Linked DNA regions of Homo sapiens. The protein of the gene in region 1 interacts with the protein of each later gene in a pairwise test. Each region holds a gene or a part of one and is shown in the gene's direction. Other genes may lie near its edges.

Region 1 (7,228 bases):
TTCTGTGATGCTAAGATTCCATAACTGTGAACTCCATGAATCTAGAATTTCATGATTTTTTAAAATTGTGTTTAATGAATTTTGTTGGTAATAGTAGTCAGCACTCTCTTGGCCTCAGTTTTGTGTTTGTTTTCTAGAAGTTGCAAGTCTCAGCTCCAGGCTCTCTTCTCTGGGCATGCCGGTGCAGAGGAAGGTCATTTCCACCTCTCCCGAGGCTCAGGGGTTGGGATAGTACCCAGGGAAGCCCAGTCCTAGGGCCCAACACTCAGTCTACTCCCTCTCTACTGAAAACTCTTACTTGGGCTTCAGTACCTGAGGGTAGCAGGAAAAGCAGTCTCCTTTGCAGTCCTTCCACCCAGCTTCCTGTCCTCCTTGCACTGCCCCATGGTCCAGGGAGAGAAAGTTTTGTGGGAGACTGCCCTGGCTGAATGGGTAGGTGTGGGAAGAAGGGTTAAGCACTGGGCAGAGAGCCAGTGGAGGAACCAGGGGACATTCCCTAGGGAGCCCTGCAGCCTTCCCCAGAGGTGAGGAAGGAACAGAGGCCGGAAGTGGGGGTGTGGGTGAGGGCACTGGTAAGGGTGGGGTGACCGGTATTGCATTGTGGGGTTGGAGCTGGGCTTCCGGCCATTGACCTATTAGTGACAAGCGACCTCCAGCCTGGCGCCCCAGGGGCTGTCTGTTCGTGCCCTTACCCACTGACTCTGTGTTCCTGTGCCTGAGTCAGACTCCCAGGAAAATCTCGGGGGCAGGAGTTGGGGTCTGGGGAACCTATTTCTCTAGAGCGGAGCCACAGAGGCGAAGAGAGGGGCCAGGACACTCCAAGGATCAGATCAGGGCTTGGGGCAGAACCAAGACTGAAGCTCCGGGCTCCTGCCTCTAGCCCAGAGCTGTTCTCTTCACGGTCCAAAGGGTCCCAGAATTATAAAGTAATACTCCCCCAACTAGCCAGGTGGTGAAACTCAGGGCTAGAGGAAGAGCCCGTGCTAGGCTGCCTCCCAGGAGCAGCCTGGACCTTCTTCCAGTCCTGCAGCACATGGCTGAAGCTGCCAAACCCGATTTTCCAGTGGCTGCCTGAGGCTGGCTGGAGCGGGAAGCCCTCCTCCTGGCATGAACCCTCAGGCCATCATCCTCCTCCCCCTCACCTCCCGATTCGGTGGCTTGGCCTGGCCTGCTCCTCCTGCACCTGTGCCAACTGTCCCAGTGTGCCACCACTTCCTTCTCCACCTGCCTGCCATCTCCCCTGGGCTGCTCCCCAGGCACTGTGAGGTGTGGTCCAGAGCTGTCCATTTCTGAGCCTCGGTTTTCTCATCTATAGATGAGGAATAGTGGCCTGCCTCCCAGGGATTGACTACAGGAAGATTTCAAAGAAAAGTGAGGTGGTAGGGGGCAAGCAGTAGCTCACGTCTGTAATCCCAACATTTTGGGAGGCTGAGGCGGGAGGATCACTTGAGCCCAAGAACTGGAGTGCAGTGGCATGATCTTGGCTGCAACCTCCACTTCCCAGGTTTAAGTAATTCTCGTGCCTCAGCCTCCTGAGTAGCTGGGAGAACCTGTTTCTACAAAAAAAATGTTTTAATTATCTAGGCGTGGTGGCCTGCACCTGTAGTACCAGCTACTTGTGGGACTGAGGTGGGAGGATAGATTGTGCCCAGGAGACTGAGGCTGCAGTGAGCTAAGGTCAGGTCACTGCACTCCAGTATGAGTGACAGAGAGAGACCCTGTCCCTAAAAACTAGGCAGGGGAAAGGGCTGAGCCAGGTGGCTCATGCCTGTAATCCCTGCACTTTGGAAGACTGAGGTAGATGGATCACTTTAGGCCAGGAGTTCAAGACCAGCCTAGCCCACATGGCAAAACCCCATCTCTACTAAAAATACAAAAATTAGCCAGGCATGGTGGCACATGCCTGTAGTCCCAGCTACTAGGGAGGCTGAGGCACGAGAATCACTTGACTCTGGGAGAAGACGGTTGCAGTGAGACAAGATTGCGCCACTGCACTCTATCCTGGGCAACAGAGCCAGGCGCTGTCTCAAAAAAAAAAGAAAAGAAAAAAGAAACAAACAAACAAAGAAAAAGGAGATATGAGTATCATGGGCCACCAATTAGTTGGATGGTGTGTTAGTGCCATGTTGGGAGCACAGCCTAGGGTGTGAGAAGGAAGCACTGCTCTGTGGAATTCTGGAGATATGGTTGTTAGGATGAAGGGTGCAAGGTAAGGGCTGTATTCCCTCTGATTTCCTCAGGTTATCTCACCTATGGGAGAAGGAAGAACAGAGAGAGGCAGAGAACATCATCGCAAACGGAGCCCCTGTTACAAGTACTCAGAGACCTCCTCACGATTTAATGAAGAGCTTGTGTAATCTGTGTAATGTGCCTCTCACTGAGCTATAATTCCTCTGGGAAAGAACTCCCACTGCCTTGCTCACTGCTGTATCTCCAGAATTTAGTACCATCCCTGGCACATAGCAGGCACTGTTGACTGACACAGAGTTGCAGATTGAAAAGCAGAAGCAGAGGCACCTTAAGGGGTGGAGACCATCTAGGTCAGCTCAGCTAACCCAGGCCCTTCCAGCCTGAGAGCCTGGTGTTCTCAGCCACCAGGGAACTCTGGCAGGGTGGGAGAGAGTGGGCTGCACCCGCTCATCCGGGAGCCACCTAAACTGAGGTGGTGGGTGCCCTCTGGCTGCTGCTGCCTCTGGGAGCCTAGATGGGGAGGAGAATTAGGAACCTGAAGGGGGAGGGGCAGTGAAGAAGCCATCATCGCAGATACAGCTAAAAATAGCTGGAAGAGATGATGTCATCTGGTTCCCACAGCTTAGCACCCCCATCATACACACACTCGAGCACAAACACACACTCTCACAGACACAGATACACACAGACACAAGTGTGGGCATGAGTGCATGCACACACACATACTACACACTCATATAGGGGAGGGAGGCTTCTGGGTCCCAGGGCCGCAGGGGCAGGGAAGTCTGGTGAGTGTGTCTGCATGCGTGTATGTCTGTGTGTGCCTGGGTTTGCATGAGTGTGAAGGCATGTGTCTGCATCTGGGTGCTTGTGTGCTTGTGTCTGGGTGCATGCATGTTTCTGTCTGTGTTCATTTAGAGGCATGCGTATGTGTTGTTACATATATCGTGTGGGGATCTATGCATTTGTGTCTGCGTATATCTGCTTATAGTATGTGCTTGCATGCATGTGTGTGGTTGTTGCAGTATGTGTCTATGAGTTCACTTATATTTACATGTCTGCATGTGTTTGTGAACTGTGTCATGTATCTTTATATGTATGGCCCCTCTTGGGCCCTTGAGCATGGCCCAAGCACCTTCTAGCTTTGACTGATGTTCAGCAACCCCCATCCCATAACCTGAGGAGCCCAGCACCGTCTGGGCATGGTGTGTCAGTGAATTCTCTGCCTCAACCCCCCTCAGGGTCCCAGTCTCTGGCAAGAGTTGGGGTAGATAGACATAAGCACAATTCACTTTCCCTTCACAGGCAGCAAAGGACATTAGCCACACTTCCTGAACCCCAGGGGGCCAGGCCACCAAAGGTCTCAGGGTTCACTCCCTTCCCTAGCCCCTTGGGAAGGTAGCCTGGAAATGCAGCCAGATCTCGGACCGGTGCAACACGTATTAGCCCATGCATGATGCAACATATTCGAGACAGAGTCCTACAAAATGTTCCCAGCGACTAAGACACAACCCCACAGAAACCCGGTTACAGCCAGTGACACATGAGCACACACTCAGAAATCCAAATGGAAAATCCCCAGGCCAGAGAGCTTAGCACCCTCCCTACTTTCTGGGCTCAAACTCAGTCTTGCCCCACCCCTAAGCACCCCAGCTCAGCTGCCAGTTCTGGAAAACACTGACCTCAGAGAATGGTTGAAGGGCCGAAGGTAGTATGCCTTTCTCAGAATCTCACCCTTCTCCATGTTCTCCTCCTTTAGGCTGTTCCCCATCCCCCTCCTGACCTTCACTTTTCTTACCAGGGCTGATGTCCTCTCCGGCACACCCATACCCTCACAAACGCTCCTTGACACTCACAGTCAGTCACAGAGGCACATTAAATCACAAAGGCACATTCAGCCACATCTACTGATACTCCTATTCTCCCGGCCTCAGACACACACACCAGCAGCTACACCTACACGCTGACCATCACAGGCACACAGAGGCACATCCACCTCACATCCACCTCATACTTGTGTACTCTCAGGGTTCAGTCTTTCATCCTATCCCTCTCTGATCTGTGCCTCCCAATACCTTCCAAGATGTTTACAGAGACCCTTCTCCCTGTGCAGTTAGGAGTGTAAGGCAAGAGAGCCCCTACTTCATGGGGCAGATCAAGAGCTGAGACCAAAGATGGTCTATGTTGCTGACCTTGTCCTGTCCTCCTGCTGTCTTAAACTATGATCCCTGCTGCGGTCACTGAAGCCTTTCCCTGTAAGTATTCAGCCATAACCCTCCCCTCACGCCCTGCATAGTCAGCTGGTTAACACCTCTGTGTGGAATAAGGCAGTTTGAGCAGAATGACTGTATTTGTTGTTCACCACCCACACGGCCCCTAGGAGATGCAGGTCCAGGGCAAACCAAGCTTCTGGGCTAGCTTCTGGGCACTTCTAGAGGATCAGAAAAATCCCAGGTTGCCTGAGATGTCTGAGAACTGAGGAGAGGAAGGAGAGGGAAGAGTTTGAGGAAGGAAGCAGTTCTGGAAGTTCCCTGCCTCTTGGATTCAGCCCCTCCCCAAACCCTCTGCTTCCAGCCAATCCATCCTCCATTAAGGCTGTCAGCACTTTGGGGTGCCTGCCATCAGGAGTCCCCCATATATGTAGGGGTGCTATTTCACAGAGATCATCCTTTGGCGTGCCTAAACAGAACCAGGTAGGGAAATCTTCACTGGCTCTGGTTTTTTTTTTTTTTTCTTGAGACAGAGTCTAGCTCTGTCACCCAGGCTGGAGTGCAGTGGCGCGATCTTGGCTCACTGCAACCTCTGCCTCCCGGGTTCAAGCAATTCTCCTGCCTCAGCCTCCCAAGTAGCTGGGACTAAAGGCGTGTGCCACCACGCCCGGCTAATTTTTTTTTGTATTTTTAGTAGAGATGGGATTTCACCGTGTTAGCCAGGATGGTCTCGATCTCCTGACCTTGTGATCTGCCCGCCTTGGCCTCCCAAAGTGCCGGGATTACAGGCATGAGCCACCGCACCCAGCCTAGTGGCTCTGTTTTTTAAAACCCCACCCTGGCTCACAGGCCCCCTGGCTAACCTTGAGGTGGGAAGATCCACACTATGGTGGTGTCAGTGTGGGTGTTGTTGATACCCATGGCCCTGGTGGCAGGATTGATGGCTGCACTGCTGGCAGTTCGACCTCGGAGACCCTGTTGATATCTTCTGCGGCTACACTTGAACATCCTGGGAAATCGGGGCCTGGGCCAGCCCATACCTGGCCTGCGGTAGGGGGAACGCATGCCCTGGGGCCGAGGGCCACGGACAAGCCGAGATGGCCCCATGGGCACAGGGAGCTTCTGCAGTGTGCCTGGGGGGTGCTGTTGGCCAGGGTAGCTGAGGCCTCTATGACATACAAAGTCTGCATAAGGGCAGGGCCCTTTATTACAAGTCGTGGGCCCTGGCCCCTCCTCATGGGTCAGGCTCCTTCACAATCTTCTTTATTGGGTCTGGCCTAAAAGCCAGCCCAAGAGCCAGACAGCCTCAGTTTGGCCCCTTGGGAAAAGAGGCCCTAGAGGCGGAACTCACTTCCTCACTTTCTCACTTATCCATATAGTAACAATATTAACAATGTTTTTTGAGCACTTACTACGTGCCAGACACTGTGCTGAGCACTTTACCAACGTTATCTCATTTAATCTCAGCTACTTTACAAGGATATGCCATCATTATACCTATTTATATACAGTCAATTCTCATTATTCCCAGTAATGTTCTATAAAGTCGCCACAAACACTAAATACTGAACAAAGGGTAAATGCAAGGTTAGGTTCCTGAAACCCTCTGGTCACAATATTTTTGTCAACTGATCTATACATATAACCTGATTTTATGTGTGGAGACACCTTATTTAATATATATTGTTGGCCAGGCATGGTGGCTCAAGCCTGTAATCCCAGCACTTTGGGAGGCCGAGGTGGGCAGATCACCTGAGGTCAGGAGTTCAAGACTAGCCTGGTTAACATGGCAAAACCCCATCTCTACTAAAAATACAAAAATTAGCTGGGTGTGGTGGTGGGTGCCTGTAGTCCCAGCTACTCAGGAGGCTGAGACAGGAGAATAGCTTGAACCCAGGAGGTGGAGATTGCAGTGAGCCCAGATTGCACCATTGCACTCCAGCCTGGGCAACAAGAGTGAAACTCTGTCTCAAAAAAAAAAAAAATATATCTATCTATCTATCTATCTATCTATCTAACTATCTATCTATATTTGAGTCATTGACATTGAACTCACAGCCAACAGCATTATAACTTGTGCCTGAATGAAACTTATCTAAAGCACATATTTCCCCTATAAGGCACATCACAGCCTTCTTGCACTTAGAAAGACTAGAGAGCACTTCAGCACTACAACTGGGGACCATTTTAGACAGTAAAATCACCAGCAAAAAACACCAAAAAATGTGAGAATATGCGTCACTAAATAGACCACCAAAAAGCACATTTGTTTACTCTATGAAAACTGAAATAAGAAGACAGAGAGTCCTCTTGCTCAACAGACCTCAGCTGGAAATACGTGTGTTGGACGGCTGAAATTTTTTGCCTTTCTGCTCATGTCCATGAATGACTGCAAAAGTACCACAAGTACTGGTTTGGGAATTACAAATAAATTTCAGTAAGCAGGCAAATTCACAGGTATGGAATCTGTGAATAAGGAGGATCCACTGTATAAGGAAACTGGGGCTCAGTGAGGTGAAGTCACACAATTAGAGGCAGGCAGGAAGCAAATCCATGATGATCAAGATCCAAAACCCAGAGCACTTAACTCTCATTATTCTGCACTCATTCACTCAGGAAATGTTCACTGACAACTTCTTATGTGCCAAGCACCAGGGCCATAGATGAATGTAATCTGGTCCCAATTCTTCCTGAGAATGAAACAGAAAGGTTCCAGGTGCGGTGGCTCACGCCTGTAATCCCAGCACTTTGGGAGCCCGAGGTGGGTGGATGACTTGAGGTCAGGAGCTCGAGAGCAGCCTGGTCAACATGGTGAAACCCTGTCTCTA
Region 2 (7,498 bases), on another chromosome or scaffold:
CGGGAGAGCCTCGGGGAAGCCGGAGGCCCCCAGCGTGGCACCACCCGCCCTGGGCTGTGCCCCTCGGAGCAGCTTACCAGAACATGTCCTGAGATGGATGCCGCGTTCGCCACAGACGTGGTGAAGACATTGTCTGCAGCAGCCCCCACGTTGGCCACTGTCACTGTGGTCACCTCTGCAACAGAAGGAGCCTCATTTAACAAGCAACAAAAGCCAGAATGGACAAAGCGAACAGCCTCGCTCAGGTGCTTCAAACAAAGTGACTCCCCCTCAGGTGTGTGCCCTTGTAACCAGGAAGATCTTAACACTTCCATGAACACGCTCGACCTACATTTCTATTCCATTGTCTAAGTCATTCGGCTCTTCCAGGAAAAAGAGAGGAAATCTATTCTTCCCCAGTAAAGCCTTTTACGTGCAGTAAAAAATGCATACAACAAACCCGCCACCCCAGCCAGCCCCAGCTCTATCAAACCACCACGGGGCTTCTATCTCCTTCTGCGGCACAGCTGTGGGTTCTGCTGGTCAGGTGTGCCCTATGCCTACGAGGAGCTCTCGGCCTCCCCGCAGGTGAGGACACCTCCTGGACCCACTCTTGTAGCTCCATTCCTGCCTCTCCTCCACCGCAGGGGTCAGGCCACCATCGTCAGGTGACCTCGGCCCCATGCTCACAGCCATTGCCCTTGGTCTCTGACCCCTTCCTCCTAAAAAGTACATCTAACCTGCCTATGTCCCTTGGTGCCACCCCACCGCACCCCCTACAACATGGAACTCAGCCCCCTGGCATGCAGACAGGCCCTTCAGCAGCATCTGCACACAGGGCAGTTACCACAGAGGTCAGCTGCACCCCACCTCCTGCCCCTGTCATCCCAGATAGGTCCTGCAGCTCCAGCCTCTACATGCTGGAGTGTTTCTAGAGAAACACTTTCTGCCGCCAACACCCCCACACCCTCCTCTCTGCCTCTGCAAAGTCTTCCTGTGATGCTCCTAGGCCAAGCAAGTGGCTCTTCTGTCACCCAGAGTTCTAGAATGTCCTGTGTCCAGGGCAATCTCTGGCACACAGCAGATGCTTAAAAGATACTGGTTGAATGAGTCCTGACCATACCATTAACCCAGCACTCACCAAACTGCCCTAAAAATGCCTGTTTGCAGCCGGGCGCGGTGGCTCACGCCTGTAATCCCAGCACTGTGGGATGCCAAGGCGGGCGGATCACCTGAGGTCAGGAGTTCGAGACCAGCCTGACCAACATAGAGAAACCCCATCTCTACTAAAAATACAAAATTAGCCGGGCGTGGTGGCACATGCCTGTAATCCCAGCTACTCGGGAGGCTGAGGCAGGAGAATCACTTGAACCCGGGAGGCGGGAGGTTGCGGTGAGCTGAGATCACACCATTGCACTCCAGCCTGGGCAACAAGAGCGAAACTCCGTCTCAAAAAAAAAAAAAGGCATGTTTGCTGTCTGTCTCCACGACCAGACCACACCAGGTGCACGGTTCCCTCATCCTCGCCTCTCAGCACCACAAGCCCCGGCATGCGGCGCGCGGCCACAGTGAGTGCTCAACGCCAGGCCCATGGCAGCCCTGGGAGCAGCCGCCCAAAGCCTCCTCAGGCGGCAGCGTGTCCTGCTGAGTTACTTAAACCTGGAAACCACTTGACGTCAGCTGTTCGTAATTTTTAAAAAGTATTAAAGTGCTTTTACCACATCAAAACACAACTACCATATTTTTCAGAAGAAAACACACGTCAGCACATTTCTCTGACATCATGATGAACAGCATCATTTTTCTTTTATGCATTCAGAAAAATACGTGCAAAAATGACAAAAACCTGAAATCAACCTCATGGCTCCAAATCCCAACGTCAAACCAGAGTTTAGCGACGGACGCCAACCCCTGAGAGTCACAAAGCCTTCCCTCACTTTTTTTTCTTAACCAACCAAACAAGCAGCAGTGACCCCTTTGCCTTCGAGGGCCACTCAGCTGACCAAGGGCAGCCCAGACGCTGCTGGCCCCCACCCAGCCCCCAGGCCGAACAAGCACCCAGAGCACACGCAATGCCCTGACATACCCAGCACACCAGGACTGGGATCCAGTTCCTCAACCCGCAAAGCTCCGTAGGGGAAAAGTGCCTCACAACGCAACAAGAAGCTCCTCCCAAGGGTCTCAACACTGAGCTGTGAGTCCCTGGGGGACACTCGGGAACTCCAATGGGGAAGAATACAGTGCGTTAGGAAGCCAGTGGGTGGGGAAGTCTATGCCCCACGGACACAAGGGCGGGACACAGGAGGTGGGTGGACGGCACCAGCCCCGTAGGGCATCTGTGAGCTCTGCCACGGGCTCCCAGTGTTTTGGAGCCTGAGAAGGAGACTGACCTGTGTGGCAAGAAACTATAAGCAGCTTATATAAAAATGTGGACTGGAAAGCCACAGCAGCCTCCCCAAAGGAAGCCCGACAGGAAGCGGGGCAGGAGGAGCAGGTCCTTAGGGAAAAAGGCAAGAGGAAGAGGGAGGACTGGGAGGGGAGCCTGCACAGGTGGCTCCGCAGCCCCCCTGGGCCACCACACAGCCACGCTGACCTCTGGCATCATGGCCTCCAGCAGGCTGCCCACCCCTGGCTCCCCAGCGCTCAGGTCATGCCTGAACTGGCCCTCAGGAAGTGGGGGGTTCCTGGTGACCACAGGTGCCCACCCACCCCAGGGCTTCTCCAGGACAGGTGGGGGGAGCCAGGATGGACGAAGGCAGGGCAGGGGCAGAGCTGCACAGGGGGGACCAGTAGGAGGCGGGGCTGCCACAAAGAAAAGGGGGGCAGGGGGCAGGTGTGTGCAGGGCAGGGCCAGGTCAGGTGAGGCTAGGCAGGTCACCAGGGGCAGGTGTGCGGGGCAGGTGTTTGGGGTAGGTGGGGCAGGCTGGTCACCTGGGGCAGGTATGTGGGGCAGGTGTGCGGGGCAGGTAGGGCAGGCCGATCACGTGGGGCAGGTGGGGAAGGCTGGAAACGTCGAGCAGGTGTGCGAGGCAGGTATTTGTGGCAGGTGGGGCAGGCTGGTCACCTGGAGCAGGTACGTGGGGAAAGTGTGAGGGGCGGGTGGGGCAGGTGTGAGAGGCAGATGTGAGGGGTGAGCTAGTCACGTGGGGCAGGTGTGCAGGGCGGGTGGGGCGGGCGGGTCACGTGGAGCAGGTGTGAGGGGCAGGTGTGCAGGGCGGGTGGAGCGGGCTGGTCACGTGGAGCAGGTGTGAGGGACAGGTGTGGCGGGCTGGTCACCTGGGACAGTTGTGCGGGGCAGGCGCGCGGGGTAGGCGCGCGGGAACCGGACGAGGCGAGAGGCCGGCGGGCGCACTTGCCTGCGAAGGCTGCGGCAGCGGCGGCCTCGTCGGGGCCGGGCAGGGCCTCGGCGCCCATGTCCATGTGCCCGGGCTCCGCCGCCATCACCGCCACTGCCGTGACCCGCGGCGTCTCCCGCTCCGCCTCCGAGTCTGCGTCCTCCTCCGAGTCCTCGTCCCTGCTCAGCACCGGCTCCTCCGCCTCGCCTCCTGCCGCGGCCGCGGCCGCCGCCGCCACAGCGGCCGCGGCCGCCACCGCCGCCGCCTCAGCCAGGCCCAGCTGCTTTGCCGCCGAGTCCGAGTCCTCCATCCGGACTCCGCCGAGCCTTCCCGAAGGCGCCGTCCGGGACCGCCCGAAGCGCCGGTCGCGGAGCCCGAAGCGGGGCCCGAAGAGGACGCCCGAGCTGGGCCGAGGCCGCCCGAAGCCGCCGCCCGAATAGGGACCGAAAAGGCAGCCAGCCGCCGAGCAGAGCCGAGCCGAGTCCGCCCGCGGAGCGGAGCCGAGGCGAACAGAGGCTGCCCGAGTAGGAGCCGAACCTGCACGAAGCCGCCGAGCCGAGACCGAGTCCTGAACCGAGGAGGGTCGAAGTTCCCCGAAGTGGGAAGCCGAATCAGTCCGAATAGGTCCGAGTCCTCACGAGGGCTTCCGAGAGACTCGGCCCCTGCTCTCCTCACTGTCCTGACAGGCTGAGGCGGCTGTCGTCCCCGGCCGACAGGGCTGGACGGCTCTAGGCAGATTCTCGCCGGCGGCCGGCGCAATTCTGCCTCTCAGAGAGAGCTTAGTGCCGCGGGTTTCGCCCGTTCCCGCCGCCGGCGGAAGCCGAGTCAGCCCGAGGCCGAGCCGAGACGAGCCGAATGTCCCCGAGGCCGAATGCTCCCGAACGTCGGTTCTCCACCTCTTCCCTTCCGAAAGTGCCCGAGCGGTGCCGGACGGACTAATCGGGCCTCGGCCGTGGCTCGGACGTCCGCTCCCGAAACGCGGCGCGGTCGGGCCCCTTCGTCAGGAGACGCGAAAATGGCCGAAGGAGCGCGAGCGCGCGGGCCGAGAGGCTGCCGGGATCGCGACGGACCGGCGGGCGGGGCGGGTAAGATGGCGGCCCCGCGGCGAGGTGAGCTCGGGCGGGGTGGGGGCTTCCGGGCTTGCAGCGGCGGGCGCGGCGTTTCCCTGTGGTGACAATCCGGTTTCCGCTTTCGGTGCGCTCACGGGGCCGTGCCACCGTCTCTACGTGAGCGAGACAGCTCCGTCACCCCATCGAGAAGCGCGGCCTGGCCTGGCCTGGGTGGCGGGCGTCCTGCACCCCGAAGAGCTCCCCCGCGCGCGGGCGCCTGGCCCCGGGCAGGGTGGGTGCGGAGCGGCTCTGGGGGCCCCAGTCCCCGGCAGCTCTTGTCCCGCGCGTGGTTTTTGTGAAGACACGTGGGCGGGATGGGCGCAGGGTTTCGGTAGCCTTGGAACTCTCGCCAAAGAAAATCGCGGGCGCCGGTGCCTCAGCCGTCCTGCCTGAGAGACTCGCCTCCGAGAGGAGGAAGGGACAGACCAAAGCAGTAAATCGGCCATCCTGCAGAGGAGCCGCCTTCTGCTGTCTGTGGGTACAGCCAGAACTCCCATACGCGGGCGCTGAAGTGCCAAACCTTCGTGCGTGTTCTCTAGTAATTAGGTGCATTGTTTTGAAGGAATAAAGAATGGCTACTCCATAGGCAGGACAGCCTCTAGTAACCAGGTTTGTTTTGTGTATTTTCATTTGGTTAAAAATTAAGTTTAGGTTGGGCGCAGTGGCTCAGGCCTGTAAGCCTGACAGTTTGGGAAGCCGAGGCTGCAGGATCATTTGAGGCCAGCCTGGGCAACATAGCAAGACCCCCTCTATAAAAAAAAAACTGTAAACATCAGCCAGGCGGTGGCGCACCCCTGTGGGCCAAGCTATTCTGGAGGCTGAGGCTGGCGGATCACTTGAGCCCAGGAGGTCGAGGTTGCAGTGAGCCGTGATGGCGCCACTGCACTCCAGCCTGGGCGACAGAGCGAGACCCCCTTCTACAAAAAAAAAATTAAAAATTACCCCGGGGAAGGCCAGGCGCAGTAGCTCACGCCTGTAATCCCAGCACTTTGGGAGGCCAAAGCGGGCGGATCACCTGAGGTCGAGGGTTCAAGACCAGCCTGACCAACATGGAGAAACCCCGTCTCTACTAAAAATACAAAATTAGCCTGGCGTGATGGTGCATGCCTGTAATCCCAGCTACTTGAGAGTCTGAGGCAGGAGAATTGCTCGAACCCGGTGGTGGTGGTGGGGGGGGTGGGGTGCGGAGGTTGCAGTTGGCCAAGATCGCACCATTGCACTGCAGCCTGGGCAACAAGAGCGAAATTCTGTCTCAAAAAAAAAAAAAATTACCTCAGGGAGCCTGTGGTCCCAGCTACGTGGGAGGCTGAGGCTGGCGGATCACTGGAGCCCAGGAGGTTGAGACTGCAGTGAGCTGTGATCAGGCCACTGCACTCCAGCCTGGGCAACAGAGCAAAACCCTGTCTCTAAAAAAACTAAGTGTATACCAAAACAAGATTTCTTAACACATCTTGTCCATTACATCAGGGAAAACACTTGTTCTCTTTCACTTCCATGTTTAACTTCTGCCTGACACAGCTATTCGTAGCCACATTGTGATTATAGTAAGTCACTGACAAAAAATGTTGTCCTGAAAGCCAAGGCTACGTTCGGTCAGAATGAGCTCCTGCAGGTCTGGAATTGTTAGAACAGCGTATCTGGTTATAGCCGCCCTTCATATTAATTATTAAAATGTTACATCACTTAAGGCTTTTATACAGTTTTTCCCCCAAGCCCCATAACTTCAATCTATAACAGTGAGCAACTAGCAGACACATTGGAAGTGTTTAAGAAGCCAGCCTTTAAGAAAAGGAACAGAAGGGACAAAAACCCCAATTAATGCGAAATCATCACAGATAATGACAGGTATTTAGGTGGCCTGGTTTAGCTAAGGCCTGGAAAAGAACAGATCGGGTTTAAAGAGTGGCCTGCCGGGAACGCGATGCGGCGTGGTCTGCCGTGCACTTGGCTTCCTGCTTCCATCCTGTGGTGCCTCTTCCAGGAGCCCAGTTCTGAGTCTCTGATGCCGATGTCCTGTATTTACTGGCTTAAAACTCTTGCCTGTGTGAGATTCCACAAACTCTGGCACAGAAGGCCCCAGATCTGCCCAAGAAGCTGTGGGATCAGCCACAAAATCTCACCAACGCCAGGTTTCTGTCCTGCCCTCCCTGGCGCTGAAGGGGAAATAGAACAGAGGCTGTGTTCAGGTTGCTGTCCTGCCTGCCGCCCAGCGGTGCAGCTTGAGCCTCCTTTTATGAGAGGTTTCCACCCAATTCTAGATGTGTATTGAGGTATCTACACATGGAGGGACGTGCACATATCACACGTGCAACTGGCCTGAGCCCTTTTCAGACAATTAGTCCGCTCCAGGTCAGCGTGGATCCAGGGTGAGTCAGAGGCGTCTTCAGATGCAAAACCTCAGAATCAAAAAGGAGGAAAGAGACTCCACTCACTCCTCGGGCTTCCTGTCATCTCTCAGGTGGGGGTGGGAGAAGGCCCAAGAGGTTGCATGATAAAAAGACTGGACAGCTGCATTGCTGGTTTGGAAAATCCTTATTTTTGGAGGGATATTTGGGGATAAAATTTCAGAGGAAAGCAAATGTCTCATCAATCATGAAAAAAGATTTGTTACAACCTAAGTCAGAAAAGGTTTTCATCTAGTCATATATGTGTGGCAAATACGGAGAAGCCACAGACGGTGAGCCACAGACAATGAGAGCAGCTGTTGGGGTGGGCTCCAGGGTGCTGCTTTCCCTGAGGGCCAGCTGGGTCTGGCCCAGGTTCACTTCCCACCCCGGTGCCCCCGGTACTCGCTGTCTCCAGCCTCAGGTTCTGAAAGGCAGAGACTCCTAGCCTCATTGAAGGATGGTTAGAGAGGCACGGGAGCTATCTAGTGGCAGGCCCACGGTATATGTTTGCTGCTTTCTACAAATACGAGATCAAAGGAAAATAAAGCAGGGGTGGTTCCTGTCAGTGTGGAGCGAGACCCGGGAAAGCATCCTGGTGGCTGTCAGGCCTTGCTCACGGCCCCTTTCTCTTTCAGGGAGAGGATCCTCCACAGTGGTATCCTGCTGCGTGCCCCTCCAGGACAGCACC
Region 3 (6,910 bases), about 120 Mb from region 1:
AAAGTGTATAACATAGTTGTATAATACTGTGTAATCTTACTTTTTGCAAAACACATCCCTTCATGCTTTTTTATATTACTATATAAAAAGTCTCTCAATATTCTATTTACCCCTACTGAATGGAAGAAAATATATTTGCAAATCATATCTGACAAAGGTCTAGTACCTAGAATTTATAAAGAACTCTTCTAACTCAACAACAAAAAGACAAACAACTGAATCAAAGAGGGGCAAAGGACTTGAATAGGCATTTCTCCAAAGAAGTTATATGATTGGCCAACAAATACATGAGAAGATGCTCAACATCAGTCATTAGAGAAGTACATCAAAACCACAATGAGATACCACTTCACACCCACCAGGATGGCTACTATAAAAAGGAAAATAAGTGTTGGCAAGGATGTGGACAAATTGGAACCTTTGTACATTACTTATGAGAATGTGAAATCATGCAGCCTGTGGAAAACAGTTTGGCAGTTTCTTAGATAAACACAGAATTACCAAATGACACAACAATTCTACTCCTAGGTATATACCCCAAAGAAATAAAAATAAATATTCAAATACACACTTGCATACAAATGTTCATAGCAGCACTATTCACAATAGACAAAAGTAAAAATAATCCAAATGTTATCAATTGATGGATAAACAAAATGTTGTATATACACATATTACTTAGCCATAAAAAGGAACGAAGTACTGATACATGCTACAATGTGGATGAATCTTTAAAACATTAAACTAAGTGAAAGAAGCTAGACACAAAAGGTCACAAATTGTATGTAACCTCCAGAATAGACAAATCCATAGGCAGAAAGCATATTAGTGTTTGCCAGGGACTAAGGGGAGGAGGGAACAGGGAGTGACTGCTTAATGGGTATCAGTTTCCTGTAGGGTGGTGAAAATGTCTTGGAATTAGACAGAAGTGATGGTTTCACAATATTATGAATGTAGTAATGCCACTGGGTTGTACACTTAATTAATGGTTAATTTTATGTTATGTGAATATTGCCTCGATTTAAAAAATATATTCTATTTACCTTTGTGTTAGATTCCTATTGCTGCACAACAAATGAACAAAAATTTAGCGGCTTTAAAATATTACCACATCAGCTTAGCTCACAGTTCTGTAGATCCAGGTGGGCTTGAGTGGATTCTCTGCTTACGGTTTCGCAGACCAAAATTAAGATGGTGACCCGGCTGGGCTCTTCTCGGAAGAATCCCACTTCCAAGCTCATTTAGGTTTTTAGCAGAATTCAGTTCCTTATGATTCTGGGACTGATATCCTGATTCTCTGCTGGCTGTCAGCCAGGAGCCAGTTTCAGTTGCTATAGGATGCCCACATTTCTTGGTATGTAGCCCCCTCCAACAGCAGCACGTCAAATTCTTCTCATCCTTCAAATCTCTCTGACTTCCTCTTCTGCTCTTAGCAGACGGAAAATCTCTGCTTTTAAAGGGCTGTTGTGATTAGATTGGGCCCACCTGGAAAATCTCACATCTGTCATAAAACGTAACATAATAACAGGAGTATTGCCTCATCAAATTCATAGGTTTCACCTCACACTCAAATGGGTGGGGGTTATACAAGGGCAAGCGTCACTGGGGATCATTCTTAGAATTCTGCCTATCGCAATGACCTCTTAGACAAAAATAATAAGAAAACATCTACCCAATTCAAGGACAATTACTGTTTATACCCAACCTCATTGCCTATGTGATTTATACCAAGGAAAAGTTACAGAAGCAGTGATTTACAGATTAACGTGGTTCAGGTACCCAAGCCTCAGGGAAGGGATGGAAAGCTGTTTTTGTTATTGTTGTTTTGTTTTTTGAGACGAGTACTCGCGAGTCTCGCTCTCCGCTCACTGCAACCTCCGCCTCCTGGGTTCAAGTGGCTCTCCTGCCTCTGCCTCCCAAGTAGCTGGGACTACAGGCGTGCATGCCACTATGCCCGGCTAATTTTTGCATTTTTAGTAGAGACGTGTTTTCGCCATGTTGGCCTGGCTGGTCTGAGACTCCTGACCTCAAGTGATCCGCCCGTCTCGGCCTCCCAAAGTGCTGGGATTACAGGAGTGAGCCACCGTGACCAGCCAGAAAGCTATTTTTAATAAGTAGGCTTCTCTTTCCGAGGCCTCTCTGGCTTGCTTTCTCTTTCTTTCTTCTCTTCTACTAAAGCACTGAATGTAAATACAAAGCGATTGTCAAGAAGACCACCTGTTTTCTCTCTGTAGTCCTGATAAGAAGGGTTGGAGTTTAGGGGACTAGACAATTGAATAATATCGATTAGCAGTCCTCAAACATTTTGGTCTTAGGACCCTTGTTAGAGGTGCCCCAAAAATCTGTTGGGTTTTGTGGGTTATACTTATTGAAAATTGCCATATGGTAATAAATTAAACCTGGAAAGTCTTACAAACACAAGAATATACAAGCACGTATTCTCTCATCCTATAAAGCGATGATGTCATCAGACATTATATAGCCTCTGGAGTGGAAAAGGAAATAAAGACTTAGCATGGTTATGAAAATAGATTTGAGCTCGTGGAACCTCTGAAAGGGTCCCAAGGACCCCCAGGGCTTCCTCGACCACACTTTGAGACTCATTGAGATATGTAAATACTGCCAGTTGTATTTCTTCACAGATTAATCAACTCACAGATTTGGGTGCATTCATTTGTGCAGTCTTAGAAACAAATCTTTCCCTTTACCAGTATCTTATTCCATCTGGTAGACTCATTTCTGCTGCTGATGCTTGAAAAAAGTGTCATTTGCTACCACAGGAGGAAAACGGTGCTAGATGGATCATAACATACAGAAAAGCAAGATAGTTCCAAAATGTTTCCAAGAGCTTCTGGCAGGATCTGTCATTCTACAAATACTGCACAGGAAAAATTGCTTTAAATGCTGCATCTTTGCAGTAGAAAGATTAGGATTGAGCCAGGCTGTGAGTCAGGCAGAAAAAGGCACACAGAGGGGGATGAAAGAAAGCACTGGAGAGTCTTGTCATGCTTTGCCCTTGAAAACTATGCCAAGACCTCTTTTGTGTTTTTAAATGAAGAAATCCATCATGTTTTGTGATTGCTGTAATGACTCAGGATCTTCCACCTTCCTTTTAACTATAAACCGTAGCGTAGTTAGGTGTTTGTTTTCTTTGTATCATGCTTGCAAAAAGTGACGAAATAAAGTTAAAACCCTTTAACTGGGACTCCATTACGGTTCTGCTGTTCAGTGACCAGCTTGTTCATTATTCTCACAATATTATCTACTTTCTTCATTTCAGTCTGTCTCTTAGATCCTGGGCTTCTGATGTCTTTCCATGGCGGATGAATACAATTTAAAACACGAAAGCTGCTGGAGGAAAGGTTTAACGTTCCCCCTCCCCAAGGTGAAATCTTTGCCTGGCCTCAGTCACTAAGTCTCTCAGGAGCGGAAACTGAATGGACATTCCGGAGACGGTGAATAAGAATGATAAACGGTGGTTGGGGAGAACAGCGCGTTTCTTCCAGCGGAGGACTAGGCCCACAGGACGCATTCCCAACAGATGAGCGGAGCCGACAGCAAGTGTGCCACGAACGCCAGCTGGCCGCCTCACTAGAGAGAGCTCCGCCGCAAGCCGCCGCTTTTGGAGTGGAGTTCCACATGTCCTCCGCGCTTGAGCCCTGGGACGTCAGAGGCCTGGCGTGCTGCCACCGCCCCAGTTCACGTCGTGTGACCCACGACCAATGGAAGAGCAGGCAAGTATTCCCGGCGTCCGCTGTGATTGGTTCCCGGAGTGGAGGCGGTGGCAGAGGGTGGGCCTTAGGACGGGTCTCCCTTAAACTGGGCGATCAGGCAGCGACCCTAGAGGCGTCTGTAGGGTAAAGCTGGGGGTTCTGTAGCCGGAGGCGGCGGCGAGTCCAGAACGTCCTGGCCTTACAGGGAGAAGGCGTCACTCGCGGTTACAAGTGCCTGACCCTCACTCCAGTTGGCGGAGGAGGAGAAGGAAGGGGCCGGGCCGGGTCCCCTCCCCTCGCGCCCCGGATGGATGTGCCCGGCCCGGTGTCTCGGCGGGCGGCGGCGGCGGCGGCCACTGTGCTCCTGCGGACCGCTCGGGTCCGTCGCGAATGCTGGTTCTTGCCGACCGCGCTGCTCTGCGCCTACGGCTTCTTCGCCAGCCTCAGGCCGTCCGAGCCCTTCCTGACCCCGTACCTGCTGGGGCCGGACAAGAACCTGACCGAGAGGGAGGTACGCGCGGCGGACGCGGGGCGCGGGAAGGGCGGGCGACCGGCCTGCGGGTGGGCAGCGGAGGAAGAGAGGACCGAGAAAAGCGCTCGAGCCATTCTCGGCAGAGATTTCTGATTTTGCCAGTTGGAGGTCGGCTTCGTGCTCTTCTTTGTGTTCATGATTTTCTGTTTTCTTCGGCTCTGTAGGACGAGTCTCCTGCGAAGGGCTCAGAACACGCGTCCAGAGGCCCCGTGCCTTGTGCGTCAGGCAGTATGCTGATCGTGTTGTAATGTGGCTTAGCGTGACTGCCCAGACTGGTCCAGCAGTTCCTGCTGGGGGCGAGGGGGCAATATTTTGACAAAGAAGTGAAAACAGCAAAGTGTACTTTGGACACGGCTTAGTAAATATTCATTGACTGAAAGTAGGCAACCACTGCTTTTCTGAAAGGATCTTCCCTCTACCTCCTTCACCTGCTTCCTGTCCATACCTTACTTTGTTTGCATTTGGCAGAATGGGTGGGCTTAATCAAGTAAGGACAGGACAGAAGTACAGAACATCTTAATTTGTCTTGATTTTTAATTGGGTGAGGTTGTGTCCAAGGATATCCTGCCCCTCTCTACCTTAAGACCAACCTCCAGGGATAAAGGCAGATGGTGAAACATAATTGACTTTTAATTATAGTGTTTCTTGTATTGCGAATTGTTGCTTCACAGATGTTAGTTTTGCTTCTCAGATACAAGGTGATGTCTTTGAAGGCCTTCTGTGATGTTCAGGGTAATTGAGAGCACGTAGTCCATCATCAAGAGTTTCTTGCTGATTGATTTTTTCCCTAGATGAGGGCTTACAAATAAAGTACTTCAGAAGCGCATAGTGTACTTTAGAAATGTGCTGACCTATTTAAGTGCATGGTCAAAACCAGCACTTGATTTTTGCAGAAGAAAGACAATATATAAACTGAGAAAGAAATTAAACCCAAAGTACTTCCACAAAACCGAAATAAAGCCGATTCAACACCCTCTTCCTTGAATACAACAAAGGGTGAAAGCTGAGGTCTCATGTTCTTTTTCCTACTATCAGTCAAGGGGCCACTTGAGAGCTTTTTCTTTTTTCCTACACCTGTTCCTTCCACCCTGCCTCCTTGCCCCAGGTGCTGTAAAATACTCCTCCCATTTAAACCTTACTCTTCTCTATGTGGGTAGTAGTCAGTCACTTCTTTTGAGTAGCCACTCAGTAACCCTGCATAACAGGTCAGAACAAGAGATGGCACTACCGGAATCATTTGCACACTGGCGAGATATAGTTACTCATAGTTTGTTGTTTGCAGTTTGTTTGTTGCAATGCTCCGTCATTTTCAAGGGCACTTGAGAGAGAATTAAGAATCAGTATTGACTTACGTATTGAGGGTTTCACTTGAGAGTCTGACATTTGTTCACTTCTAGCAAGTATCACTGACTTTTTGCCTGGCCTTAAATTACCCTATTGACCTGCCAGTTGTGGGATGGAGTGGCTGGGCCGTTTCTCAGTCTTGTGGATCATTACATAAGCGACCGTAACAGTTATTCATAACCTATTTGAGTTTTAATACTGATTTAAAGCAATAATGTCAAAACAGCCAAATTTCATGACAGAATGATTTTACAAGAAAATTACTGCACTGATATGAGAAAGTATGATTCTGGAGACCCAAAACAACCACTGAATCTGAGGTGTAGCCACTGAGGCAGAATTGATACTGCTGTGAACAGCTGACCATTAAAGTTTCATGTGAACTGCCATGTGATCTGCACAGTTTGTGCGCCTTTCCGGATAGTGAAACACAGGGAGAGAAACATGTTCCCAGTGTTGATATTTGAAAGCTGATCTGTTTTGTCATGTGCTCTGGGTAGAAGGTTGCTGTGTGACGTGCTACCAAGATCATGTGCTCTGTCCTATCAGAAAGCTTTTCAAGGTGAGTGAAGTGTGTTCAGGGGGCACAGAAATAAAGCAGAGTTGCCAGGCGTAGTAACTATTTGCTGATTGTGTAACAAAAAACATAAGTGTACTTCTCTTATTGCAAATTAGTTGAGGAAAAGCGTGGGATTTGAAGAGAAATCTAGTAGTCTGGGGAAGGGGTGTCTTCTCAGAGGACCACCAAATCATGGCTGATTCTCCTCTGCTTACCTTGTGGCAAACCCTACGTTTTTTTGTATAACTAATAATTGAAATAAATAGAACAACTTATTCATTACTTACTGAATGCTTGTTTTTTGCCATGGACAGTTAAATAAAAAAAATTACATGATTTTTAAGCAAAGCTAATGCTAAGTCATATTCAGCGACATTTGTATTAAAGTTTGTATTTGCTCTTAGAAGACTGCAGAAGGGCCAAGTTGGTTTGAATAGAGCTATTGTTAACTAAATCCTAAAACAAAAGGAGAGGAGAAAAAGATTTCTTCTGTCTACTCTCAAAAGTTTTTTTCTTAGATTTCAGGAAAAGCATTAATTTTAAAACAGATACCAGTGTGTAAGTTTTAAGCAGGCTAAAATTTGACTGTATGTTAATAGTTGAAGGCCAGACTTTCAGTAAAACAGATCTTTATCTCTAAAAACTTTTTTATCCTTTCATCATTGTAGCATGTGTTTTGACAGACATTTACTACCTTTCTTAGATTTTTTTAAACATTCCACCTATTTTGCCTGATATTCAGAGCCTCACGAAGTTTGGTTT

The links.
Region 2: the proteins of TSPAN1 (region 1) and TMEM80 interact in binary tests that used the Homo sapiens proteins (3 or more experiments, as listed by UniProt).
Region 3: the proteins of TSPAN1 (region 1) and SLC19A2 interact in binary tests that used the Homo sapiens proteins (3 or more experiments, as listed by UniProt).

Annotation. Positions count from the first base shown.
Region 1 is NC_000001.11:46,170,965-46,178,192, forward strand, and holds the start of TSPAN1 (tetraspanin-1), read left to right. Parts: upstream 1-4,122; 5' UTR 4,123-4,445; intron 4,446-4,521; exon of another isoform or gene 4,522-4,621; coding exon of another isoform or gene 4,622-4,665; intron 4,666-4,764; exon of another isoform or gene 4,765-4,883; intron 4,884-5,263; coding exon of another isoform or gene 5,264-5,507; exon of another isoform or gene 5,508-5,524; intron 5,525-6,694; exon of another isoform or gene 6,695-6,857; intron 6,858-7,228. Other genes in the region: P3R3URF-PIK3R3 (LOC110117498-PIK3R3 readthrough), read right to left, coding at 5,264-5,507; P3R3URF protein, read right to left, coding at 4,622-4,665, 5,264-5,507. UniProt on the Homo sapiens protein: Structural component of specialized membrane microdomains known as tetraspanin-enriched microdomains (TERMs), which act as platforms for receptor clustering and signaling.
Region 2 is NC_000011.10:691,424-698,921, forward strand, and holds the start of TMEM80 (transmembrane protein 80), read left to right. Parts: upstream 1-4,399; 5' UTR 4,400-4,404; coding exon 4,405-4,423; intron 4,424-7,445; coding exon 7,446-7,465; intron 7,466-7,498. Other genes in the region: DEAF1 (deformed epidermal autoregulatory factor 1 homolog), read right to left, coding at 78-175, 3,336-3,624.
Region 3 is NC_000001.11:169,482,877-169,489,786, reverse strand, and holds the start of SLC19A2 (thiamine transporter 1), read left to right. Parts: upstream 1-3,842; 5' UTR 3,843-4,020; coding exon 4,021-4,224; intron 4,225-6,910. UniProt on the Homo sapiens protein: High-affinity transporter for the intake of thiamine. Mediates H(+)-dependent pyridoxine transport.